4 linked regions of the Homo sapiens genome follow. The protein of the gene in region 1 interacts with the protein of each later gene in a biochemical or structural test. Each region holds a gene or a part of one and is shown on either strand. Other genes may lie near its edges.

Region 1 (7,027 bases):
CAGCTTCATGCTGTAAAAGAAGTTTCCTCTCATATAATCCTGTCCAAGTGCCACCAAATGAAGCTTGTTGTGTGTTACCACTTCTTATAATCATATCTCTTTCTTGAGAAACATCAAAATCCCTTGAACCTCTACAAGAAGAAAGAATCAGCAAACCTAAAGATAGGTAAATTAAAATTACTGAGTCTGTGGACTGAAGGAAAATGAACATACATGTGGAACCCCACCAAACATACTAATATACATATAATTGGAGGCACAGAAGGAAAAGAGAGTGAAAGAGGCCTAAATATTTGAAGAAATAATGGCTAAAACTTTCCAAATCTGATGAAAGGCATGAATCTAGCTCATAAACTCAATGAATTCCAAGCAGGATAAATGCAAAAGGATTCATATCAAGATGCATCATAATCAAATTGTTGAAAGACAAAAACCGAGAGAACCCTGAAAGCAGCAAGAAAAATGCAACTCGTGAAAAGGACACTCAATACAATCAACAACTGATTTTTCACTGGAAACCATGGAGACCAGAAGGCAGTGGGATAACATATTCAAAATGCTGAAAGGAAACTGTCAACCAAGAATCCTCTATCTGGTAAAACAACCCTTTAAAAATAAAGGCAAAATTAAGATATTTCCAGATAAACAAAAACTGAGGAAGTTTGTCACTGGTAAACTTCCCCTAAAAGAAATACTATAAAGAGTCCATCAGGCTGAAATGTAAGGGGATCAGACAGTGGCTTAAAATCACATATGAACTAAAGGATACCAGTAATTGTTGGTATTTACATAGGTAAATATAAAAGTGCATATTACTGTGTCTTTGGTTTGCAATGCCTCCTCTTTGCTATATGATTTAAAAGACTACATAAAACAGTAATTATGAATCTATATTGATTGGCACAAAATTCATAAAGCTGTAACTTGTGACAATAACAACAAATACAGGAGCAAAGTTTTTATATACCACTGAAACTAAACTGGTATTAATTCAAACTAAATTGTTATAATATATAGTGTTAATTATAACCCCCAGGGTAAATACTAAGAAATACACACATAATTATTTACTATATTTTATTTATATATATAATTCTCATATATACATATTCTCACATTACATAAATATAACATATCTAAATATATTATATTAATATAAATATAATATATATCTAAATATATTAATATAAATATAATATATATCTAAATATATTAATATAAATATAATATATATCTAAATATATTAAATTTTTATTAATATATATCTAAATATAATATATCTAAATATATATTAATATAAATATATATCTAAATATATTAATATATTTAGATATGTTATATTTATTTATATAATGTGAGAATTATATGTATATATGAGAAGGGGATCAAAATGGTACACTAGAAAATATCTGACACAAAGAACAGCATCAGAGGAATTGACAAACAAAAAATATATAAGACATAGAGAAAACAAATAATAAAATAGTAAATGTATTTCCTTATCACTAATTACACTAAATGTAAATGGGCTAAACTTTCCAGTTAAGACACATAAGGCCAGGGCCAGGCACAGTGGTTCACACCTGCAATCCCAGCACTTTTGGGAGGCTGTGTTGAGTGGATCACTTGAGCCCAGGAGTTCAAGACCAGCCTGGGCAACATGGCAAGACCCTGTCTCCACAAAAAAAATGACAAAATTAGCCAGCCATAGTGGTATGCACCTATGGTCTCAGCTACATGGGAGGCTGAGGTTGGAGAATAGCTTGAGCCCAGGAGGTCGAGGCTGCAGTGAGTTGTGATCGTGCCACTGCATTCCAGCCTGGACAACAGACTGAGACCCTGTCTCAAAAAGAAAGACACAATGAATAACAGGATAAAATGTAAAAACACAATCCAATTATATACTGTTTACAAGAGACTCAATTTAGATCCAAAAATATACACAGATTGAGAGTAAAAGCATGGAACAATACATATAGCAAAAACTGACAGAATTGAAAGGAAAAAAACCAAAAAGAGTTCCGCATTAATGCTTGGAGACTACAACGTACAACTTTCAATAATGGATAGAACAACCAGACAAGAGATGAACAAGTAAACTGAACACTTGAACAAGACTTAAACATGGCCTATCAGATATCTCTAGAACACTACACAAAATAGAATACACATTCTTCTGAAGTGCATAAAAACATTCTCAAAGACCAAAGTCTAAAATACTACACTACAAGTCAAGTCTCAACAAATTTGAAAATATTAAGCTCATACAAAGTATCTTTTCCAATGACAATGAAAGGAAATTAGACATCAGTAACAGAGGCCAGGAACAGCAGCTCAGGCCTATAATTCCAGCATTTTGGGAGGCCGAGGGAGGCAGATCACTTGAGCCCAGGGGTTTAAGACCAGCCTGGGCAACATGGCAAAACTCCCATCTCTACCAAAAAATACAAAAATTAGCCGGGCGTGGTGGCATGTGCACCTTTAATCCAAGGTACTAGAGAGGCTGAGGTGGGAGGATTGCTTGAGCCCAGAAGGCAGAAGTTGCAGTGAGCCATGATCACACCACTGCACTCCAGCCTGGGTGATACAGTGAGACTCTGTTTCAAAAAATGAAAGAAAAGAGAAGAGGAGAAGGGAGGTGAGGAAAGAGGAGGGGAAATCACTAACAGGAGGAAATCTGGAAATTTCACAAATACATGAAAATTTAACAATCAACAAGTAAGAAGAACTCATAAAGAAAACTAGAAAATAATTTGAAATTAATGAAAACAAACACATATAGCAAAATCTATGGGATACAGAAACAAGTAACTACATTTAAAAAGAAGAAAGATCTTGAATTGGCAACCTAAACTTCTACCTCAAGAAACTATAAAAAGAAAACTCAATACAAACTAAGCAGAAACAAGGGGGAAAAAATACAGCTAATACAAATGAAATATAGACTAGAAAAATAATAGATGATCAACAAAACCAAAAGTTTATTCTTTAAAATGATGAGGCCGAGCACAATGGTTGACACCTATAATCCCAGCACTTTGGGAAGCCAAAGTGGGAGGACTGCTTGAAGCCAGGAGTTTGAGACCAGCCTGGAAAACATAGCAAGACCCTGTCTCTACAAAAATTATTTAAGAAATTAACCAGGCATGCGCCAGCATGCCTGTGCACCCAGCTACTCAGGAGGCTGACAAGAGGGAAAGTCACTTGAGCCCAGGAGTTTAAGGCTGCACTTCCATTTACATAGCTATAAGCTATGATCACACCACTGCACTCAAGCCTGGGTGACAGAGACCCTGCACACACACACACACACACACACACACAAAATTGGCTAGACTAAGAATAAAGAGAGAAGACTCAAATTTTAAAATCATGTATAAAAATGGGAACATTAATATCAACCTTACAAAAAGTACACAATTATAAGAGAATACTATAATTGTATGCTACCAAATTGATGAAATAGATGACAAATTCCTAGAATATAAACTATAAAAACTGACTCAAAGGAAATAGAAAATCTGAGTAGATGTACAGCACGTAAAAAGATGGAATATGTAATAAAAAACAAAAAACTTACAACAAAGAAAAGACAAGGACCAGATGGCCTCACCAGTAATATGCTTCAATAAGAATGAACACCAATCTATCTTAAATTCTTCCAAAAATGAGAGGATGGGATACTACTTCCCAACTCATGCTATAAGGCCAGCATATCCTGATACCAAAGCCAGGCAAAGAAATCTCAAAAAACTACAGACCAATGTCCCTTATGAATACCGATGTGAAAATCTTCAATAAAATATAAGGAAACTAAATCCACAGTATAGTAGAAGGGTTATACACCATGACCAAGTAGGATTTATCCCAGGAATGCAAGGATGGTTCAACATATGAAAAAAACCCATGTAACACACCATATTAATAGAATAAAGGTAAAAAGCAAAAACAAAACACATGATCATCTCAACTGATTCAGGAAAAAGCACTGGACAAAATCTAATACCCTTTCTTGATTAAAACATTCAGAAATATAGGAATAAAAGAACACTTCCTCAACCTGAGAAAGAGCATCTACCAATAACCCCTAGTTATCATTATACTTAATGGTAAAAGTCTAAAAGTTTTTCCCCAAAATCAGAAACAAAACAAGGATTTCTGCATCATGACTTCTATGCAACATTGTACTGGAGATTCTGGCTAGGGCAATTAGACATGGAATATAAACAAAAGGCATCCAGATTGGGGAGCTGGAATTAAAACATCCTCTATTCACAGATGTCATGGTCTTATATAGAGAAAATCCCAGAGAATAAACACAAAAATTAATTTTAGAGCTAATAAGCAAATATTTTTATATACTAGCAATGAATCATCTGAAGATGAAATTAAGAAAGCACTTCCATTTATAATAGCATCAAAAAGAATAAAACTTTTTTTACAGCTCTCATTTCTTTATTGAGATTTCCAATTTGTTGGGTCAATGTCATCATATTCTCCTGTAATTATTTAAATAATGTTTCCTTTCTTTTACCATGTTTATAATAGCAGTTTGAAGTCTTTGCTAAGTCTAATATCTAGGCTCACTCACAGTCAGTTTCTATTAACTGCTTTCTTTTTCCCTCAGCATGGGTCACATTTTTCTGTCTCTTTACGTGTCTTAAAATTTGTTGTTAAAAACTGGACATTTTGGATAACATAGCCAGTGTATATTCTTTTTTTTTTTTTTTTTTTGAGACAGAGTCTCACTCTGTTGCCAGGCTGGAGTGCAGCGGTGTGATCTCGGCTCACTGCAACCTCCACCCACGGGTTCAAGCTGGGATTACAGGCGTGAGCCACCGCACCTGGCCACCAGTGTAGAATTTTATATTTCTGAGCCTTTTAACATGTCTGGCCCTAAACTGTGGAATCTGTGTCCTGGGCAGTGTGACTACATCTGTTCAGATTTTAATTCACATATATATGTTTTAGCCTGGCTTTCTAGAGAAGTCATTCTGTGTCTGAATATCTTAGTTTTCAGCTATGTACATGCCAAAGATATGCTCAAACAGCTTGAGCCTGCTCTTTAATCTGTATCTGGGTTAAGAAGGGCACATTCAAAGCTTAAAGAATTCTCATCTGCCTTGGCCCTTGCTCTCAGTTAGACAACCTCAGGTCTCCCCTACACATGTGCATAGTTTCACGTTATGCCAGGATATGTGAAGAGGTTATCCCTTTATGGTTCTCTCATTTCCAGGGTCTGCCTTTTAATTTATAGCTACTCTTCCACTCACCCCAACTGGCACTACAACCTTAAACTAGCAAATACATGGTTTTTCCTTGTTTTCCCCTACCAAGTTCAGTACATTTTATCGACAAAGGTTTTTACTCATTGCCCCAAATTGAATCAGCTGTCTGACAGCGAAGCTGCTGGTTTTCCAAACTACAATTCTTGCCAAAAGTGCTGGGACAGGAGGTCACAGTAGAAGCCCACGCGAGAATGCTGTAGACTTGCACTATTCTTACCTGAAGATCTAACAGTTTTCCTAAGAATAAATGTTTCTCAATGATTTTCTTTGCTTTTGGTTGATTTCCAGAGTTCAAATAGTTTTGGGCAATTCTGCCATTTTTATACTTGTGTGTGGAAAGGATTCACCAAACTCTTCATGCAGCCACAGGTGAAAGTACATTTCTTGCGGATATTTTTATGCTTGTCCTCCTCATTTTATAAATGAGAAAATAAAAACTTAGATGGCCTAGATCATTTTTTAAGGTTAAAGGACTATGTGGTCTTAAAGGGCTAATTTGTCAGTTAACAATCAACATGTAGGGCATGGTCACTGCAACCAAGTAGCATCTTGTTTGAAACCTGCCTGACTTTAGCTATTATCTTTTATATAAAAGTGATATGGCTGTTATAAACCACAAGTCATTGACTAAATCCAGATTTGTTTATCCAAGTGAAGAAATTTAAGATGTGGGTAATAAGCATAAAATAGGATATTTTGCCAAAGGCAAACAACTTGTTAAAGAAACTATTATATTAAAATGCATTTTTGACTGCTTTAAAGCAGGTAATATTAACCTATATAAAAGAGAAACATCCTTGTTGATATTGAGCCAAAAATTAGCCTATGATGCAACATATAGTTTAGTTTCTCTCCTCTGCCATAAAAAAAAAAAAATGGGCAAGTATGGTAGCTTTCCCAAAAAACATCCTTTAAATTCTTAAACATCCTCACATTTCTCTCCCAAATTCTACCTGCCTCGTTTTTGTTTTTTGTTTTTTTGTTTTGTTTTGTTTTGTTTTTACAGCTATAGTAACTTCCTAGCATAAAAGATGAAGCAAAAGCAATACAATTATAATAGCTATTGACTCCCTACCAGGAGAACAGGGCATAATTTCTAAGAATGTTTTCCAATAGTGATGATAGACTTGTGCCTCTCTACGCAACCCTTCTAATATTAGAAAAGAAAAATTGTCATAGCTCCATAAGTCTTCCCTTCTCCAAGTCAAACAACTCCAGTCCTTACCAGCAGAGCCAGAATCCTTTCACCACCACATGGCTCTACCGTGGCTCCAACAGCAACTCCAGTCAGAATATGGACATTCCTTAGAAATATCTCTTCGTGGTGTGGCGTATTCACCCTGAGTCTCAGCACAGACTCTAAACACCTGATGATACATTCGTTCGTAAGTATTTACTGAGCGCTACTATATGCCAGACACTGCACTTAAAGGAGGAGACAGAGCAATGAACAAGATTACGAATCCAGAGTCGCTGCACCCAAAAACTGGGGTTGGCAGACACTGAACAATCGCTAATTCAATTCATCCCAGACAGTACAGCTCACTTCGTGCTGAATACCACTAGGACCATCAGACTCAGACAGAGAATCTTTATTAGAATTTTCTAATACAAGGAATGGAAATCTACATAACATGTCCAAATACACACAATAGGGCAAGCCCATGGTAATTCCCATATGTCCTTTAGACAAAGTTTTCAACAATCCTCAGGAAAAAATATGAAAGAGAACAACGCGG
Region 2 (7,027 bases), on another chromosome or scaffold:
TTTGAAGCTGTTACCAATTACACTCCCACCAACACTATAAAGGTGCCAACTCATTCTACTTTCTGAGGCACTGGATAGTTTTTAAATCTCTGACACTCTGGTAGGCAAAAAATTATGTTTAATTCTTTATAACTAATAAGACCCTATTATTAATTAGGTTGAACTCCCTCCCTTGTATCTAGTAGCCAGCTTTACTTGCCCTTCTGCGAACTGTACACTCAAATCTTTATTGTTTCTCTCATGCATTCTTGTTTTTTTTTTCTTTTTTGAGACAAGGTCTTGCTCTGCTGCCCAGGCTAGAGTGCACTGGTGCAATTATGGTTCACTGCAGCCTCAGCCTCGACCTCCTGGGCTCAAGCATCCTCCTAGCCTCCCACTTCAGCTTCCCTAGTAGCTGGGACCACTAATTTTTTTCTTTTCTTTTTTTTTTTGAAACGGCGTCTTGCTCTGTGGCCCAGGCTGGAGTGCAGTGGTGTGATCTTGGCTCACTGCAACCTCTGCCTCCTGGGCTAAAATGATTCTCCTGCCTCAACCTCCCCAATAGCTGGGATTACAGGCATGCGTCACCATGCCTGGCTAATTTTTATACTTTTAGTAGAGACAGGGTTTCATCCTGTTGGCCAGGCTGGTCTCGAATTCCTGGGCTCCATCGCCTGCCTCAGCCTCTCAAAGTGCTGGGATTACAGGTGTGAGCCACTGCTCTTGGCCCTGTCTCATGCATTCTTATGAGCTCTTTACACACAAATGGTTTTAACCCTTTAACCCTTTATCTATCTATCTATGTATCTATCTATCTATCTATCTATTTATCTATCTATCTATCTATGAGATGGAGTTTTGCTCTTGTTGCCCAGGCTGGAGTGCAATGGCACGATCTTGGTTCACCACAATCTCCACCTCCCAGGTTCAAGCAATTTCCCGAGTAGCTGGGATTACAGGCATGTGCCACCAAGCCCGGCTAATTTTGTATTTTTAGTAGAGACAGGATTTCTCCATGTTGGTCAGGCTGGTCTCAAACTCCCGATCTCAGGTGATCCACCTGCCTCAGCCTCCCAAAGCGCTGGGATTACAGGCGTAAGGCACCCTGCCAGGCCAACCCTTTAACCCTTTAAAGGGTTGTTCCAAACCTATGTTCCTAATTTATCATAATTTTGTATATGATTTTTTTATTTATTCAAATATGTTTTTATTCTTTGTCATTTCTTCCACTATTTTGTGCCTAGAAAGTCCTTCTTCCCCAGAAGAACTCCTAAGGTTTTAATGTTTTAACCCTAAGTTGGAGACCAATACTCAAACAATCTGACTCGTGTAAAAAAAAGCTAGTGAAAGAGTCAACCTGAAAGAAGCCTGTTTGTTCTCTGCCAATGATGGAGTACTTGTTAAGTGAGATTTTTATCTTTTTAATGAGAAAAGCTTGTCTAGGACATCTTACAAGAACAGTGTGAAAAAGCACATTTCTAAAACTGAAGAACCTGGCAGTGGCATGGTCATTATTTTTAGAAAGAGGGGAAGGGGAGTGTGTGTGTGCTGTGACACGTTGTTAGAGAAATAAGGCAGATGCAGGACTGCTAAAATAACAGGGTTCAGAGACTCACATTTCCATTTGCACTGATCTTTAGTTCAAAAAAGGAGACAGCCACAAATTAGAAAAGTAATTTCCATTATATCTTCTTTGAGACAGTAATGGGTAAGGTTAATAACTAAAAATCCCTTATTTGGCAGGCTATTTTAACTTGGCTGTCAATTTAATTTCCTTCTGCTGTATGCAGAAGAGTCATTATCCTGGTAGCTGGTTTAGCAGCCAATATGCATAGAGATGGGTAGAGGACATGATGGTAAGAACAATCTACCTGCTAAGGCACTGACAAAGCGATACTAAGAATCTAATTGGAAACTGCTTCAGCATTTCCCTTCTAGAACTTCTGAAAAATAACCTCAAGACTATGAAGATATATAGATTTATAGTTTAATCCCTTAAGGTCAGGGCAATAAGCAAGTTCTCTAACCAAGCAGGAGCCCCTTCTGCTGCCTGTTCAGAGATATGCAAGAAATGTACCTCCAAAGAATCTTCTGGGTTTACTGATTCACAAAAATTTTCATTAGCTTTTAGTTCAATTTAATAAGCAAATAATGAGTGCTATCATGCAAAAAGGAAACATTTTTCTGTGTTGGAAAGTACCTTAGTGACTGAACATTAACTCTGTTGATATAAAGAACTGGTAACCCAGAGAAGTTAAAGGACTTGTCCAAACAGCAAGTTACTAGAGTGAGTGTCGGAAATTGGAGTAAAAATCAAAGTAAGCAAAATGTCTTATCTCCTAGTGCCAGGTTCTTTCCACTACATCACTGGCTTTCATGGTATAGGTTGAGTAACCCTTATCTGAAATGCTTACGACAAGAAGCGCTACAGATTTCAGACACTTTTGGATTTTTGTAATATCTGCATTATTTCTTTGCACAACTATTTGCGCATCCCTAATTCAGAAACCCCAAATCCAAAATGCTTCAATGAGCATTTCCTTTGAGCATTATGTTGGCACTCAAAGTTTTAGATCTTGGAGCATTTTGAATTTCAAGATTTTCAGATTAGGGATACCCAACCCGATTTTTTTTTAGACAGAGTCTCACTCTGTCGCCCAGGCTGGAGTGCAGTGGCGTGATCTCAGCTTACTGCAGGCTCCATCTCCTGGGTTCACGCCATTCTCCTGCCTCAGCCTCCTGAGTAGCTTGAACTACAGGTGCCCGCCACCACACCTGGCTTTTTTTTTTTTTTTTTTTTTTTTGTATTTTTAGTAGATACGGGGTTTCACCGTGTTAGCCTGGATGGTCTCGATCTCCTGACCTCGTGATCCACCCGCCTCGGCCTCCCAAAGTGCTGGGATTACGGGCATGAGCCACCGCGCCCGGCCACCCAACCCAATTTTTAAAAATAATAATTATTTTTTAAAAAACAAAAGTAATGGCCAGGCGCGGTGGCTCATGCCCGTAATCCCAGCACTTTAGGAGGCTGAGGTGGGCGGATCACCTGACGTCAGGAGTCCGAGACCAGCCTGGCCAACGTGGTGAAACCCCGTCTCTACTAAAAAATACAAAAAATTAGCCAGGCGTGGTGGCACACACCTGTAATCCCAGCTACTTGGGAGGCTGAGGCAGGAGAATCGCTTGAACCCAGGAGACAGAGGTTGCAGTGAGCAAAGATTATGCCACTGCACTCCAGCCTGGGCAACAAGAGCAACGCTTCGTCTCAAAAAAAAAAAAAAAAAAAAAAAAGTTCCTACCCTGGGAGGAAAGGCAAAATTGGGAGTTTATTGTTTAATGGGTACAGAGTTTCAGTCTTGTTAAGACAAAAAGAGTTACAGAGATTGATTGTATAACAATGTATTTAACATGAGTCAACTGTACATGTAAAAATGGTTAAGATGGTAAATTTTATGCTAAATATATTTTATTTAATTAATTTATTTATTTTTGAGATGGAGTCTCACTCTGTCGCCCAGGCTGGAGTACAATGGTGCAATCTTGGCTCACTGCAACCTCCGCCTCCCGGGTTCAAGCGATTCTCCTGCCTCAGCCTCCAGAGTAGCTGGGATTACAGGTGTGCACCACCACACTCAGCTAATTTTTGTATTTTTAGTAGACATGGGGTTTCACCATGTTGGCCAGGCTGGTCTCGAACTACTGACCTCAAGTGATCTGCCCACCTTGGCCTCCCAAAGTGCTGGGATTACAGGTGTGAGACACCGTGCCCGGCCTGTTACATATATTTTACAAAAAAGAAAAAAAAGACTTCCATCCAGAAGGTATACAAATATTTTCCTATAATTTCTTCTAATATTCTCATAGTTTTTCACCATTCAGTCCTTCAATCTATCTTGTGTTGATATGTATCTGTGTATAAAGCATATGAAACACAGATCACATTTTGTCATCTTGCAGTAGTAGAAAATACCATCTACAATGCCCTATCTAAAAGTTCTCTTTTTAAAAAAATGCAGTATCTTTGAGTGGTAAGATTATGGATGATTTTTATTTATTTTTTGCTTCTCTGTATTTCTACAAGTTCTACATTGAACATGCAGTACTTATGCCATTAAAAAATATAGGAGAGGGAGCCAGGCATGGTGGCTCATGCCTGTAATCCCAGCACTTTGGGAGGCCAAGGTGGGTGGATCAATTGCAGCCAGGAGTTAGAGACCAGCCTGGTCAACATGGAGAAACCCTGTCTCTACCAAAAATACAAAAATTAGCCAGGGATGGTGGCAGTCGCCTGTTGTCCCAGCTACTCGGGAGTCTGAGGCACAAGAATTGCTTGAACCTGGGAGAGGTTGTAGTGAGCCAAGATTGCACCACTGCACTCCAGTCTGGGTGACAGAGCAAGACTCTGTCTTAAAAAAAAAAAAAAAAGGAAAAAAATTATATATATATATATGGGAGGCCTGTAATCCCAGCACTTTGGGAGGCCAAGGCAGGTGAACTGCTTGAGTCCAGGAGTTCAAGACCCAGCCTGGGCAACAAAGGAAGGCTCTGTCTCTACAAAAAAATATAAAAATTAGCCAGGCATGGTGGCACGTGCCTGCGGTCCCAGCTACTTGGGAGGCTGAGGTGGGAAGACTGCTTGAGTCCAGGAGGCTAAGGCTGCAGTGAACCGAGATCACGCCACTGCACTCCACCCTGGGCAACATAGTGAGACCTCATTTCTATTAAAAAAAATAAAATATAGCGGATAAATCACCATTCTACCTAAACCCATCAGTGAGCAGCTTAATTATCAACTAACACCTTAGCACGCATCATGAGTCCTCAGTCAGATAAAAGGAAACAATAAAACAAAATACCACCCCATACATATAGAGTAATTCATAACTTATAAAATGTTTTTATACACTATACACCTAGGCTTTTGGACAGTGAAGCAAAGAGAATAGGAAGTGGAAAGTATGGTGATATCTGAGTATTTAGTGTGTGCCAGCTATAGTGTTAGGTATCTTATATACATTATCTCATTCAATCCTCCCAACACTGAGATAAGACACTAACTCTCATCTTAGTGGTAGACATACAGGCTCAGATAAATTGATACCTTGCCCAACCAGTCATTGCTGGGGCTTGGATTTGAACCTAGGTCTATTTGCTAAGATAATAGCTAATACACATAGTTATTATGTGCCAAGAAGTGTTTTAAGGCTTTACATAAATAACTTTATTTACTCTTCATAACAATGTTACAGGCAGGTGCTACGATGATTCCATTTACAGATGAGGCAACTGAAGCACACAGAGGTTAAGGTTCCTGCCCAAGTTAATAAATCTAGTACGAGGTAAACTGGTACCTGCACCAACAGTAACTGCCAAAACCCATGTACTTTCTACCACACTGGGCTCCTTTTCTTCCTCTCTTCATTCCGGAATGGAAAAACCACATAAGGGGAAGTGAAGAGGTGGGTGGAAGCATATACTACTTACCTGCCATTATGTGGCACTAAAATTATCTCTAATTCACAGAATCTAAATAATATTGACAAAAAATTGTAACATATTATGTAATGCCTGACAATGTATAAAGTGCTTTTATATTTTATCTCATTTAATTTCCAAATAATTATGTGAAGTAGATAGAGAAGACATCCTTGATTTATAGGAAAGAAAGCTTAGAGTGGTAAAGTGACTTGTCTGAGATGATAGAAGAAAAGGTCTGAAACGAGGTGTCTGTACTTCTTATAGAGTATTATTTTCAACTATGTTGTCACCTGCAAGAAGTAGTTGAAAAGCATCCCCTCATTCTGCCGAGATACCAGCTTACCTAGGCGAGCCCTTGTCCTGGGTCCCTGCATCTGACTCCGAAGTTCAGGCCTCAGATGAAACTTCTTTGCTTCATCAACCAGATCCCTGCATTGTAAACTACAGCGGATGAAAGGCTGAAATATAGCAGACAGCAGAGTTAGGCACTGGGGATACCTGTAATACTATAAGAGTACAAAGAGCACATGCAAATAATTAACTTCTGACTACAGAAAACCAGTTTGCAAAGCCCTGTGATTCCAGGAGTATTGCTGGTAGTAACCATGCTCTCGGTTTCCAGAAATGATTTTTAAAATTTACTTGAAAAATAGATAACATACTAGATGGATCAAAAATCAAATGATATAAACAGATATGTTGAGCAGTATTTCCCATCTATCGCAGCGCTTACATTTAACTATTTTTACATAGTTTGGATGCCCTTCCAGGGATTATGCAAACACAAGTACATAATAACTAATAAGAATTTTAAGGGGAAAACCAAAAAGATTCTGTTATTTTCTGGGTGACAGGAAGAATCATATTTTGTCTGAAATATCTCCCCCAAGGTTCACAGTCCTGTTGTAATTACCATTGTCTATTTCTGACAGCTCTGTACTGGACATCTTTCATTTGCCTCCCAACTCACTCTGTACCTTTTTCCACTCTGCTCTCTGGCTCAGAAGACTGGCCTATATGAACTGTGTCAATAGGGCTTCCTATGCCTTCTAGCTTCTGGTTGGGATCAGCCCAACCAAAGGTCAAGGTTTCTCTCAAGGCAGTGACTCTACACGATTCTCTTTCCTTTAAGGTTCTAGTAACCACTCCTCAACCTTGTCCCTTCAGGCTTAGGGGTTGTTAATAGCTTATGTCCTAGATCCAGGTTATTTCACTGTCTTTTGTTGTTTCTCTGAACTTGCGCCTTTGTAAACAGCTTCTTTATTAAAAAAAACTCTTCTAAAATTGTCCTGTTTTGAGTATAGCATCTGTTTCCTGTTGGGACCCTAAAGGACACAGCTCTAATTAAATGGCACCTCTATTAACCTGACCCAAGAAGTTCTTAGTCGAACTGGAAAGGAAAACAAACAATAAATAGTAGTAAACACTTATGTACAAAGACTTGGTTTTAAAAGTTTTCACATAGTAACTTACTCAATGCTAACAAGAACCTATGAGGAACGTACTATTATCATCCCTGTTTTACACATAAGAAAGCTAAGGCACAAATATATTAAGACATATTAAGTTC
Region 3 (7,027 bases), on another chromosome or scaffold:
GAGCCGATCTGGGGTCTCATACACTTTCATCCACTGGTCAGCAATGTCATCATATTGGTAAAGGGAATTTTTTCTGCTGGTTCTGAAGACGTGTTCTTCAACAGTCACTTGAGTAGCTCGAACAAATAAATGGAGTTTGTTCTGGAAAAGTACCAGTTTAAGGTATGGATTTATGGACTGATCACATGGAAAGTCTTTCTTACGAGTCCATTTATTTAGCTCAATATCATAGGCTTCTACAGTAAACATACGTTGATGATTTCCACAGGTTCCAGCTATGTAGTAGATAGAGTCCTTGTATACAGCTGCTAAGCCCTGGATTCTAGGCACAGTCATGGGGGTTAAGAAACCCCAGTAGTCTTTTTGAGGCTCATAGAAGAGAAAAAATTCTCCTAAAAAAAAAAAAAAGAAAACAAGAATATGTAAATTTTTATGTTTGGTTTTTGGTTATATGTTGTAACTACAACCTCTAAAGATTAAAGGGCATAATTTGCTATATATTTCACTTTCTAAAACATTTCTTTTATAATCTCCAGAGATACATTCATATGGGTTACAAAATACCTTAAAACTTTGTCATTCCATGACACAATATAACAGATAATATTATAATCAACCTGAATTGGGAGGTTTGTATTGGGAAGGTACAAGGAGTTACTTGGGCTTGATGGCAGAATTGTTAAGAGCTTGATTCTGGCCAGGCACAGTGGCTCACGCCTGTAATCCCAGCACTTTGGGAGGCTGAGACGGGTGGATTACTTGAGGTCAGGAGTTTGAGACCAGCCTGGCCAACATGGTGAAACCCCATCTCCATTAAAAATACAAAAATTAGCCAGGTGTGGTGGCAGGCACCTGTAATTCCAGCTACTCAGGAGGCTAAGGCAGGAGAATCACTTGAACCCAGGAGGTGAAGGATGCAGTGAGCCAAGATCACGCCACTGCACTCCAGCCTGGGTAACAATGTGAGACTCCATCTCAAAAAAAAAAAAAAAAACACAAACTTGATTCTATTTGCTCTATCCAATTTGTGTGTTTATAGAAAATTCATTTTACTCTAGCTCTAAAAAAGCATTATTAGTAACGTTCAGCCAGTAAGACCAAAATGCATACATGTAACATCATCATAAATATGCCATGATAAATGTGTATGCTATTTAATTAGAAGACAGCAGATGGAATTGTGCAGATTTATGCTTATGGGTCACTGATGTGCTTACCTGAATGTTGCTATAATGCAAAGAGAAATATTCAGCAGGAGAAAACATGACTTTAATAAGATAGAAAACACATACATGGTTTGTGATGTTGACTTTGAGTCAGTTTCTATTTTGATTTGATAATAAAAAGGTATGCTGAGTCAGACTGCCAATATGAAAATGTCTGAAAGAATTAAAGTAGTGAAGATTTACAATAGTTTTGCTAATTATAGCATTTGTTTAAAATCTTTGTAATAAAAATCTGAACACTTTATGAACAGATTAAATGATACTTCAATAGCCACAGATAGTACAACATAAGCTTCTGACTATGCATGTCAGGTTTATTTATGTAAAGAGGCTTTGTTTAGATTAGAAATACCAGATTCTAAATTGAGCTTCCCCTTGAAAACTGTTTTGAACTAGGGTTACTCTTATCTACAAATTCAACTACGTACTTCGTAACAGTGATGCTTTGCCTTCAACTAACTTAAAATAGCTTGTAAAGCTCCCAGATTTGCTCGCACATCATCTGCCCTTATTGCCTAACTTGTAACAGGATTCTCGATAAATAAGGTAGGAAATTTAAACTTTGTAATGTGTGCTACTTCTCTATAAATTTCTTATAGATAAGAAAGTAAAGACGACACACCAAAGAAGTTGAATGTTAAAATCTAAAGTACTCTTTAATAAAAGTTAAAGCTAATAATATGCAATTAAGAAACCCTTAGGGCTTCAGAGTCCTCTTATATAAAATATAACCTCAAATTAAATGATGTTAATAATTCCAGCCCTGAAATTCTATTAATTCATTGCTAGTTTGCTTTAGTATTTGCATTAATATACAAACTTCACATTCCAAATAGGAATCTAATTCTACCTCTACCAACTAACAGTTAGGCAGTAAGACCAAAATACACACATACACAGACAGCTTCATCATACTGGATGACATAACCTATCCAAGTATACTGGACGGATCATACATCCATTCTTATATTCCATTTTTCCACAAGACAGCAAACCCAAATCATGGCCTGTGCTTCTATTTAACTAAAATAAGGAACCAGAGAGTACAACTCCTTCTGAGGAATTAACTTGACACTGAACTTAAACAAATGAGCTCAGATATTACTAGGAAATTTTTAGTTAAATAAAGGATTAGAGCAAGGAACACAATTTTTAAAAGAAAACAATGGTGGGAGGCCAAGGTGGGTGGATCACTGCAGGTCAGGAGTTCAAGACCAGCCTGGTCAACATAGTGAAACGCCGACTCTACCAAAAATAAAAAAATTAGCCAGGCATGGTGGCAGATGCCTGAGACTGAGGTGGAAGAATCATGTGAACCCAGGAGGCGGAGGTTGAAGTCAGCCAAGATCATGCCACTGCACTCCAGCCTGGGTGACAGAGTGAGACCCTGCCTCAAAAAAAAAAAGAGAAAGAAAGAAATGAAAGAAAAGAAGGGAAGGGGAAGGGGGAGGGGAAAGAAGAAAGAAAGAAAACAATGGGATAAGGGCAGTCATGCATCAATTAATGACAGGGACATATTCTGAGAAATGCATCATTAAGTGATAGTTGTCCTTGTGGGAAGAACATCATAGAGCATACTTACACAAACCTAGATGGGAGCTTACTACACACCTAGGCTACAAAACTGTACAGCATGTGACTGTACTGAGTACTCTAGGCAACTGTAACACAATGGGAAGCATTTTTGTATCTAAACATATCTAAACATGGAACAAGTACAGTAAAAATATGCTATCATAATCTTATAGGACCACCATTGTGTATGTGATCCATCATTGACCAAAACATTACATGGCACATGACTGTATATCTTCATAGAAGCTGCTCCTTTTCCTTAAGTAGTAGTGTGAGAAAAACATCAATTAAGAGACACATACGAGGAATAAGGATGTTGCTATTATCTACACTGCATTAAACATTCAAGCAACTAAAATGTGTAAGAAACCAAATAAAAGGAAAATAGTTATCACAAATCAGAGCCTTGAATCAAATGTCTTATTTACTCTGACTCAGTCACTCTACCTCTACTGTATTTTTGCCAAAGTAGTAGTCCTTAACAGTTAAAAAAACAAACAGAAAACAAAACAAAACAAACACTACATATATCAGATAGTCCCACTTAAAATGGCAAACCAAAAAAAAGGGACATCTCAAAGTTTTCCGGTGAAAAAAATTGAAAATGTATTATGAAAGGCAACATAAACAGCAGTGAAGGTGAAACTTGAAGACCATACTTCCAAACTCTTTGTAATTAAATTTCATAATTTTTGCAATAATAAGGCTTATATAAAACTCTTTGGTAACTAAATAGTATAACTTAATTAATGCTTTGTTCTTTTCTCTTTTAAACTAATCCAGTAAATTCCACAGAATACCAGTTGCTACAACATCTCAATTTTACTCAAGAGCAAAAACAGCCATGTAACAACCTTGCTATTTATTTCAAGTCCTACAAACTACTCTGAAATAGTTATCCCAAAATGCCGAACTATTATTTATTAAAGAATGTTTTCAAAAATAGTTATTCTACATGATATCAAGACACAAAATCATTAAAAATTATAGGATTATTTTAGTAATTTAACAATACCTGCCTTTTTTTAATTCAAGAGTTTATTTTCTTTATAGCTCTTTACAGAACAGACTGTTCCAATAGTTTGATAAGGAAGCTGGAGGTATTCCTCAATTAACGGGAACACAACTGTTTCAGTATAATTAAGTAAACCACCACTTGATGTGTTACCCTTCCATGAAAAACTAAATCACTTAGGCACCTACCCTGTAAAACATAGATCTTCTCTTTGTACTCCACAGCATTATGAAATTCCATTGCAACTGGCATCGCGCAAACAGTCGTCCAACAATTCTCTCTACTGTCGTAGCACTCAACAGATTTTAGTGAGTTTCTCCCATCACCTTCATAAACACGACCTCCGATTGCATACATTTTACCACAGCAATAGACAAGTTTGCAGCCTATTCTGGCTCGAAGCAAGGATGGTTTGGATAGCCATCTATTGGTGGAATGATCATACATCCAGAAATCATTTTCTGCCTTATGGTCGATGGAGACCTCACTGCTGCTTGGCCTGTACCCTCCTGCAATGTAAATGTCATTATCTGGTGATACAAGAATCCCAACTTCTCTCAGGTCATTTGGTGGTTTGCATAGTTTAAACACCCTTCCTGTGACTATATCTAGACAAGGCACTGTTTGCTTCTTTCCTGAGTGTTTGTGGGCAGCATCAAAACATATGATCATTTCAGAAGCAGTCATTCCAAGCCTCTGTGTACAGCCATTGGTGTTGGATGGTCCCTTTTCTACACAGCTTTTGGCTATAGCCTGTGCAAACTGAGGTGGAATTTTCTCTATAAAGGTATCTTCCATCAGAGGAAAACGTATGCATTTAGCAAAAATTTCTGGAAGGTGCACTTCTCTTTCATTCTGTTCATGCTCAAACCACCTTATAATGCTTTCATAAACATGCTCTTCTCGGTCTACATTTAAATCGTCACTGTCTAGTATACTTATCAGTTGGTCTTTTGTCAACTGGAGAAACTCTTGTTCTTTGGTGACACACAGAAACTTTTTACGAATGTATTCTTTTGATCGATCTCCGAGTTCCTGATGACCATAATGATCAGCAAAGATAAAGACCCCAATAGAATTCTGTGGGTCCAAATGACTGATCATATACTTAGCACATTGGTCTTGGATGGAAGGAATCTGGAAGATGCTAGCTGCAGTGAACAAGGCTTGAACATTGGCCTCTGTAAGAATAACTCTGGAAGTGTAGGCATAGTTCAACACTAAATCCATCGATTCAGCTTCAACACCAACTATTCGAACTTCTTTTTGAGTACTTTCTGTAAGGCCGCTAGTGAACATGGATCTAAGAAGGAAAGAGTGGTTAATATTACACGTGTGCTATAAATCAAAATTATTGTGGCAAGATTTTAAAAGTACAAAGTTACCACAAAGATAACCTTTTGAAACAGAATATTTCCTAAAATAGTCCCTGATATTCTGAATAGGAGTAAAAATTGATAATGTATCAGAAGGATTTAGTCTGGCTAACCTCAAAACCCATATTCTCAGGGCTAGCTCGCTGTGTGCCAACTATGAAAAAAGGAGAGTACACCTAAGTAAATGCAAATCAAAAGGTGACACACATATTCCAGGTCACTTTATTTTCCTAGAAGCCCCTATCCAGAGTTCTGGTCAAGTTGCCTTAGGGACATCAGATCTTAAATTGGGCCATGCCAGTCAGAAAGCTTAAGAATACTGGCCCGGTGTGGTGGCTCATGCCTGTAATTCCAGCACTTTAGGAGGCCAAAGTGGGTGGATCACATAAGGTCAGGAGTTCAAAATCTGCCTGGCCAAGACGGTGAAACCCCATCTCTACTAAAATAAAAAATTAGCTGGGCGTGGTGGCACATCCCTGTAATCCCAGCTACTCAGGAGGCTGAGGCAGGAGAATCGCTTGAACCCGGAAGGCGGAGGTTGCAGTGAGCTGAGTGCCAGCCTGGAAGACAGAGTGAGACTCCATCTCAAAAAAAAAAAAAAAAAAAAAAGAATACCTATAAAGGTATCAACATGATACATTAGCATACAAAGAAACAACCTAATAAAAACTTTTCATGTCCTGGTGAAAATTACAAGGCAACTTGTATCCAAAATATATCTTTAAAATGTTCATCTTAGAAAAGCAAGAAGTTCTTTAAAAGTACATATTCTCCACCTACTCCTTTTTAAAACTGTCATCTTTTGAATGCTGCCTTAACCATTATAAGTAATATAATAATCACTTCACTTACCCTTGGAAATTTTGAGAACATTTGCTTAAAAGGAAATACTTCATTTTCTCAAAGATACCATATTTTACCTACCTAAATCTAGACATAAATAAAGATTATGGTAGAGTCAATACATAATGCCTGTTTTAAACAGAGTTTAATAGTTAACTGATTCTTTGAAGATAATGGTTTTTAAAACCCCAAACTTTTACCTTCGAGACCAAGTTGGTTTTTTCTATTATTAAAATATTGTTGCATTTATGGGATTTTCTTGACCGAAACATTAAGCAGCCTGGCTCTTTAAGTATTAGTCACTTGCAAACATCATTTGCCTTTCTTTTCGCTCCTTTAAAGTTTCATTCTAGATGATCCAGACTCATCCTATTTAATTTTTGTGATCTTATGAAAAATGAATTGCAAAGATTTCCAGTCACTTAAAAAATATCTCTCAAATTCATGGAATTAATTTTAAAATGCAGTATGAGAAACACTGGAGGTACAAGGACTCAACTTGCTGCCCAGGTTAATCATCTTCGAGTCCTGTTTTTACTTCTACAATGTACATTTTAATTTAGTATCACACTGGCTTTTTTGATGACTAAAAACTAGATGTTCCTACGTATGTGCTGGTTTTCAATTCAGGTGCTGAAAGACTCACCGATACAGCTACCAATTAAAAAGAAAAATAAAGCCCTGCATTAGGGAGACATTAACTCCCAAAGGAAGACATTACCACATATCCCTTTATCATGGGAACTACTGCTGACTTGAATAGGCTCATCTTACACACAGGAGTGGTCTCACACTTCATGAGTTTTCCTCTGTTCTAGTAAGTTCTTCATGTAAACTCAACATAAATGAAGCCAGGGCACTTCCTCACACAAAATCCAGAGCAGCAAAAAATTTCTAATAATCATACAAATTTCAATTCTGATGAGTTACTGGTATCATGAAACAGCCATTCCAGATTTCCAGCCGTTCTAATTCTTCCACTAGTGATGCAA
Region 4 (7,027 bases), on another chromosome or scaffold:
CCTGTCTCCGAGAAGCCCCCCCAGCTCCCCCGGAAGCCCCCTGATCTCAGGTGATGGCAGCTCCTGCCAAGTGCTCAGGAGGAAAAAGAAAGGGGAGCAGAAAACAAAAAGCTGCCTTTCTCCTCTCATGCCTCCCAGCTGGGCTAGAAAACCCCGTGCACTCTACTGGGGGCTGCCTCTTGCCCTGGAGCCCACCTACACCAACACCTGTCTGCCCTGCTCCCAGCCTGACAGAGGTCACCTCCAACTGGCATCACCATGTCACTGACCCCCTTGTCTAGAGTGGAAGCACCAGGAGGGCAGGGTTTCAGCCTGGGTCCCCAGGCCCATAACTTCCGGTGAATGCTCAAGCAATCCTGCTGTGTAGACAGGCATGGGGCTGAGGGGCTTGGGGACCCGGGAATAGGCAGAGGTGCTCGCCCCCGCCAGCTGCCCCCATCCCCCACCCCGGCTGCCCCCATCCCCTACCCCCGCTGCCACCATTCCTCCCCCACCACTCCCCCCCCAATCTACACTCCCCGCCCTAGCTGCCACCCTCCCACCCAGCTGCCCGGAGCCTCACGTTGTTCTTGGCGTTGGGCCGCATGCCGATGGTGCCGAAGATCTCCTCGCCCGTCTTCACGGTCAGGTAGTCCTCCATGTAGAACACCGTCTGCTTCCAGTGCGTGTACGGGGACTCGGGGCCTGGGGGCGCGGGCGGGTCAGCCGGCCTCGGCCTGCTGCCCCCCCCAACCCCACCCTTGCGTTCCCTCTGTCGGAATGCCCACCCCCATGACAGCTGATGGGACTGCTATCCGCGAGTCACCTCCCTGTCATTGAGCTTTGGAGACAGGGACCGTGTCAGCCTTTTGTGGATGAGGAAACTGAGGCACTGCACACTCAGGTCACTTGCCCAAGGCCACGTGACTGCTACATGGCAGAGCTCACACTGGAACACGCGTGTCCCCATGGTTCCTTCTGCCCGTTTCTGTCACCCCCTCCACTACGTGGGTGCGCCTCCGCCCTGGCTCGGGAACGGCCCCCAGCCCTGTGGGCCCCGCCTCACTGGTGGAGAAGCCGGTCCTCTTGTGGCAGCGTGTGAACTCGATGTTGAAGTAGGCCACCAGGGCGTGCACGTAGTCATTCCGCTTCACTTGCAGGCAGAACGGGGAGGTGAAGGTCAGGTCTTCCACCTTGACGGTATAGATGTCCACCTCCTGCAGGACATGAGAGGGCGAGCTCCGGGATGCGTCCCCACCTCGCTTCATCCCCTCCTCCCTCCCTTAAGCTCCCAGAGGGCCTGTGACCTCGCTGTCCCCTTCCTGCTAGCCCTCCCTCACTGGCACCCAGCCTCGGCTCCTCCTTCACTCTGCATCCTGCCTATCCGGCTCCCAATAAACCATGTGGGTTCGAGCCCAGATTCCTTGCTCCCTCCTCTCCAACACCCAAACCTGGCAGTGCCACCCTAACTCTGTCCAGACCTCCTAGAATGCAGGCGCCCCACTCCACTGTCTCCCCAACCCCTTGACAAGTCCAACAACATGATGGCTTCAAACGGCAACACAAATGCCAACCTAAACCCTGCGCCAGTTCCCCTGGCTCTCAGGAGGGTGGCCCGAGTGGGGTCCCTGCCCCTGTAGTCTCCTCTCCTCCCCCACTCAACAACTTACTCCTCCCCGACAGGATCCCCCGGTCAGCCACCCAGCTTCACCCGGCTCACACATCCCAGCTCAACAAATACTCATCGCCGTATTTTTTTTTTTTAAACAGGGTCTCAGAAGTAAAAAAAAACAAAAGGAAAAAACAAAACAAAACATTGTCACCAAAGCTGGAGTGCAGTGATGTGATCACAGCTCACTGCAGCCTTGAACTCCCAGGCCCAAGTGATCCTCCCGAGTAGCTGGGACCTCAGGCACATCTCGGAGCCCAGCCTGGCCCCGTGCTCTTCTGCAGTGGCCCGCGTGCATGTGCATCCGCTCATCGCCCTGGGGTCCTGCCTTTCCGTGCATGGGCTGTGGGCTTTAGCTGCCAGCTTTGGGTGTTTCCTCCGCCAGAAGCCAAGTGCCAAGCATGGTTCTCACACAGCAGCGCTCACAAAGATATTTAAAGGACGAAGTGTCTTTCCTGGGCCTCTAGCACCACCTCTGGCTGGCAGATCAGGCTCTGAGACCTCAGGCCAACATTCTGGGCCCCAAAGTCCCATGCCAGGGCCAGGTGATGGCCTCTCTTTGGTTTCAACCCAGGGGGCACCTGGCCATGCCCACCCCCTCACCTTTATGAGGCAGGCGTTGGTGACCAGCTGTTTGGGGTCCACGACATCCACTAGGGGCTCCTTAATGGCCACATCTTTGATGCAAGACATGTCGAAGCCATACACGTTCTCCCACCCTGGGGAGGCAGGCAGGGAGGGGGTGAGCCCGCAGCAGCCCACCCGAGGCCCCGCCCGCCAGCTCCCGGGCCGCGCTCACAGTGGATCTTGTAGTCTTTGTACTGCCGGTCCTCGATGGCCGTCACATACAGCGTGGCCCGGTCTGGGAAGATGAGGCCATCGGGCGCCTACAGAGGGGCAGGGCGAGGCATGAAGGGTGGGGCCTGGCAACACTACCCTGAGTCTTGCCTCCAAGATGTGGCCTCCTGCCCTGGTCTGGGCCACCCTCATGTCGCAGCGGCACTCACCCCTCGCCCCCTGGTCTATTTCCCACACGGCCGCCAGAGGGCACCCAGGGGCACCCCAGTCAGCTCCCGGCCCTTGGAGGTTCTGGGGATCCTCAGACCCTCCCTAGCTGCTCTGAGAGGAAAAGCACGGGGTCCCATAAGCCTCCACAAAATCTGCACACGCCCTGTCACCCCTCACCTCCACTCCTCCTCCTGCTGCCGTTCTAGACCCTCCTTCCACACGGGCCTCCCTGCTGTTCCACACGCAGCAAGGGCACACCTGCCCTGGCTGCCCCTCCGTATGCTTCATCCACCTCTCCGTCACCTCACCTCTCCCGGGGAGGCCTGCTGGGGCCTAAGGACCTGGGCTATTGCGCCGCTACGGATTTCCTGTTCCTACGACCTCCCCCACATCGCACCATCTCCCTCCAGGGTCTGTCACACCTGGCTTGGGCTGTGGCTTTCTAACACCTTGCAGCTAAGCCCCCACAGTAAGTCCCGTCTGTGGGAAAAATTGAGCGTGGTTTTCGTCTTCTACCTGGACCCCAGCCCACGCGAGCTGCACCCGTCCCGCTGGGGCCTCACCAGCCACTTGTCCCGGGCATAGAGCACGGTGTTGAGCATGGACTCGTAGAAGAGGCAGTAGCCCATCCACTCGCTGATGATGATGTCCACCTTCTCCACTGGGAGCTCCACCTCCTCCACCTTCCCCTTGATGATGGTCACCACTGCGGGCGGACAAGGGTGGCCACGTCAGCCCCCGGGAGGCCTGCCCCTCACCTCACCTCCCCCGGGGGCTAGAGCCTGGGGACCCCACTTCAGTTCAGAGAACTGCGTGAGCAGAAGCCATGAACCCTTCTAACAGTTTTAAAATTCATACATCGTTCTGGACATTTTTGAGGCAGGAGCAGAAATTTTATGTGGACTGGGTATCAGGTGATGTTACTTTTTTTTTTTTTTTTTTTTTGAGACGGAGTCTTGCTCTGTCACCCAGGCTGGAGTGCAGTGGCGTGATCTCAGCTCACTGCAACCTCCGCCTCCCGGGTTCACGCCATTCTCCTGCTTCAGCCTCCCGAGTAGCTGGGACTACAGGTGCCAGCCACCAAGTCCGGCTAATTTTTTGTATTTTTAGTAGAGACAGGGTGTCACCGTGTTGGCCAGGATGGTCTTGATCTCCTGACCTCACGATCCGCCCGCCTCGGCCTCCCAAAATGTTGGGATTACAGGCGTGAGCCACTGTGCCCGGCCGCGATTTTGTTTTTAACTGGGTGGTTTTGATATAATAAGTAACAGCATGATCACATTCTCAAAACAGCCTTTATCTATTAGATAAGACACAAGCAGACGCATTTACCGGGAAAATTACATCACAGTGGGAATTTGCTTCAAATGGACTCGTGCGTTCATTATAATAATCTCTTTTTAAAAATCACTTCAGGATGGCACGGTGGCTCACGCCTGTAATCTCAGCACTTTGGGAGGCCAAAGTGGATGGATCACCTGAGGTCAGGAGTTCAAGACCAGCCTGGCCAACATGGTGAAACCATGTCTCAACTAAAAAAATACAAAAAAAAAAAAAGTTCACACCTGTAATCCCAGCACTTTGGGAGGCCAAGGCAAGCAGGCAGATCACGAGGTCAGGAGATCGAGACCATCCTGGCTAACACGGTGAAACCCCGTCTCTACTAAAAAAACAAAAAAATTAGCCGGGCGTGGTGGCTGGCGCCTGTAATCCCAGCTAATTGGGAGGCTGAGGCAGGAGAATCACTTGAACCCAGGAGGCGGAGCTTGCAGTGAGCTGAGATCGTGCCACTGCCCTCCAGCCTGGCAAAAGAGTGAGACTCCATCTCAAAAAAAAAAAAAAAAAAAAAAAAATGCTGGGGATGTACCTATGATGGTGGTCATGCAAAAGAGCGGATGCCGCAACATCCTGGAAAGTGTTAAACGACATGACAAGCAGGTGTAAGAAGCCAAGGGCAAGAGGCTGGTATGAAATGCTACTGGCGTGAAAATTATGCACGAGAATGTAAATGCATTTACGTATGTATGTGTTTGTAGGTCCAGACTTCTCTGGAAGTTAGTGTTGGTTAAACTCAGAGGAGGGCAGCTGGGAAACAGGGAAGGCTTCTCACTGTGGGCCTTCCGTGGCCAACCACGTGACTCTATTACTCATTCAAGAAACTAGAGAGTGCTTCTTGCCCTAATTTTAAGACTGCGGTGCTAAGCCTGTGATTTTGACACTCAGATTCTCAGGCGGCCGGCAGCCCAAAAGACCATGGGTTGGGAGCTGCTGAATCTGTGGTCATCTGTAGACCCCACTGCTCTTCAGAGGGCCCTGGGGAAGCAGGGCATCACCCCCTCCACTCCCACAAACCCATCCTCTTTCTGGGCTCACCGTGGTCTAACTTGTTGGCTTTGACGATCTTCACCGCATAATCAGAGATACTGGAACACTCGATCTGAGGGCCCAGGAAGAAGGGAGGGTGAGACCCATCCCCTGCCCCCATCACCTCCATCCAATCCCTGAGCCCTGATGGGCTCCCCTCCATCCCTCAGGCCCGGCCCCGCCTGGCCACCCTGGAGACTCACCCCGATGACCTTGCGGGCCCCGGCCTTGGCAGCAAACATGCAGAGGATGCCGGTGCCCGAGCCGACGTCCAGCACCACCTTGTCCTTGAAGAGGTGCCGGTTATGAAACATGGAGTTGCGGTAAGTGAGGGTGCGCACCTCGTCCTTCAGCATCTCCTAGGGCAAGAATGGCACAGAGACGCCGTGAGGGGCCCCATATCCCCAGCTGGAGAACAGCGTGTCCTGAGAGCTCGGAGGGCCAGAGCTCGGCCCTCTCGCTTTCTTCCATGCACCTCAGTTTCCCTTTTATATTTATTCATTTATTTATTTTTATTTTATTTTATTTTTTGAGATGGAATCTCACTCTGTTGCCCAGGCTGGAGTGCAATGGTGCAATCTCAGCTCACTGCAACCTCCGCCTCCTGGGTTCAAGTGATTCTCCTGCCTCAGCCTCCCAAGTAGCTGAGATTATAGGTGCACACCACCATGCCCGGCTAATTTTTGTATTTTTCATACAGATGGGGTTTCACCATATTGCCCAGGTTGGTCTTCAACTCCTGACCTCAGGTGATCCACCCACCTCAGCCCCCTAAAGTGCTGGGATTACAGGCGTGAACCACTGCGCCCAGCCAGTTTCCCTTTTTAAAAAATCAGATTAGATGGTCTAAACTCCAATCTTGGCCGGACTTCACCACTGCTACCTAAGAACCAGTGAACCCTGGCTTTTAAAAGTCCTCAGGCTGGGAGCGGTGGCTCACGCCTGTAATCCCAGCACCTCAGGAGGCCAAAGCCGGAGGATCACTTGATCCCAAGAGTTTGAGACCAGCCTGGGCAACAAGGCAAGATTATCTCTACAGAAAAATAAGAACATCAGCTGGGCGTGGTGGCGCGCGCCTGTGGTCCCAGCTACTCCGAAAGTGGAAGTGGGGGGATCACCTGAGCCGGGGAGGTCGAGGCTGCAGTGAGCCATGATTGCACCAATGCACTCTAGCCTGGGCGACAGAGCGAGACCGTCTCTAAAAATAAAAAATGGCAATTTTATGCATATTTTGCCACAATTTTATGAAAAAGGCCTCAGGGGGAAAAGAAAATTCCTTAGAATGCCACCCCAGCTTCGTTCTGGGATTTCAGTGTCTTCAGTCAGATCTGAAGTGTGCAGAAGCTGTTAGGGCGGGAGCAGCCGGGGCGCAGTCCCACCGCCGGTCACTAGAGGGCGGCAGAGACCAGTGGGCCCTGCCCGACCTCTGGCTAAGGCCCCAGGCACGCATGCGCTCTCCCACCCCAGCCTTCGGCGCGAGGCCCCTGCAGAGATTCAGGCTAACCTCGGTCTCCAAGGCAACGGCTTGGCGAGGCGACCCTAGGAAGTGCGCAGCAGAGGGGCAGGGGGGCGGCCTGCGGCCAGGGGAAGCAGTGCGCATGCGTGGGAAAACAGGTTCCACCCCTTCCCCAACATTTAAGCCCCCCTAAGATTGGGGCCTTGGGGACTGTCCCCACTGACCTCGTGGATGCCAAAGTGTGCGTAGGAGTCAAAGTAGTAATCTTTGGATGTCATGTCCTCAGCGTTGGGCTTCTCACTGCTTTCCGCCTGGCCACAGGACACCTGGGAGGGGGCCGATGGGATCATGGGTCAGATCTGGGGGCTCCCCACAGCCTCTTAAACCTCCAGCGCCCTACTTTTCCCTGAAGAGTAGTATAGAACCCCCAAAATCATACCATGACAACCCTACAGCCCCCGCCTGCCATCTTGCCCCCCCAGGAACCCCAAAACCTAACAACCCCATTTTCCACTTCCAGGACCCCCCCAGAGCACCATCCAGGGGAGCAC

What was found.
Region 2: the proteins of FBXL17 (region 1) and KLHL12 form a complex in vitro, tested with the Homo sapiens proteins (3 studies listed by BioGRID, with this or other methods).
Region 3: the proteins of FBXL17 (region 1) and KBTBD8 form a complex in vitro, tested with the Homo sapiens proteins (one study listed by BioGRID).
Region 4: the proteins of FBXL17 (region 1) and PRMT1 form a complex in vitro, tested with the Homo sapiens proteins (one study listed by BioGRID).

The regions. Positions count from the first base shown.
Region 1 is NC_000005.10:108,372,072-108,379,098, forward strand, and holds part of FBXL17 (F-box/LRR-repeat protein 17), read right to left. Parts: intron 1-7,027. UniProt on the Homo sapiens protein: Substrate-recognition component of the SCF(FBXL17) E3 ubiquitin ligase complex, a key component of a quality control pathway required to ensure functional dimerization of BTB domain-containing proteins (dimerization quality control, DQC).
Region 2 is NC_000001.11:202,903,210-202,910,236, forward strand, and holds part of KLHL12 (kelch-like protein 12), read right to left. Parts: intron 5,916-7,027; coding exon 5,801-5,915; intron 1-5,800. UniProt on the Homo sapiens protein: Substrate-specific adapter of a BCR (BTB-CUL3-RBX1) E3 ubiquitin ligase complex that acts as a negative regulator of Wnt signaling pathway and ER-Golgi transport.
Region 3 is NC_000003.12:67,001,287-67,008,313, reverse strand, and holds part of KBTBD8 (kelch repeat and BTB domain-containing protein 8), read right to left. Parts: intron 5,120-7,027; coding exon 4,005-5,119; intron 393-4,004; coding exon 1-392. UniProt on the Homo sapiens protein: Substrate-specific adapter of a BCR (BTB-CUL3-RBX1) E3 ubiquitin ligase complex that acts as a regulator of neural crest specification.
Region 4 is NC_000019.10:49,680,262-49,687,288, reverse strand, and holds part of PRMT1 (protein arginine N-methyltransferase 1), read right to left. Parts: intron 6,803-7,027; coding exon 6,701-6,802; intron 5,380-6,700; coding exon 5,224-5,379; intron 5,173-5,223; exon of another isoform or gene 5,094-5,172; coding exon 5,030-5,093; intron 3,363-5,029; coding exon 3,220-3,362; intron 2,536-3,219; coding exon 2,448-2,535; intron 2,368-2,447; coding exon 2,252-2,367; intron 1,197-2,251; coding exon 1,046-1,196; intron 685-1,045; coding exon 563-684; intron 1-562. UniProt on the Homo sapiens protein: Arginine methyltransferase that methylates (mono and asymmetric dimethylation) the guanidino nitrogens of arginyl residues present in proteins such as ESR1, histone H2, H3 and H4, FMR1, ILF3, HNRNPA1, HNRNPD, NFATC2IP, SUPT5H, TAF15, EWS, HABP4, SERBP1, RBM15, FOXO1, CHTOP, MAP3K5/ASK1, MICU1 and NPRL2.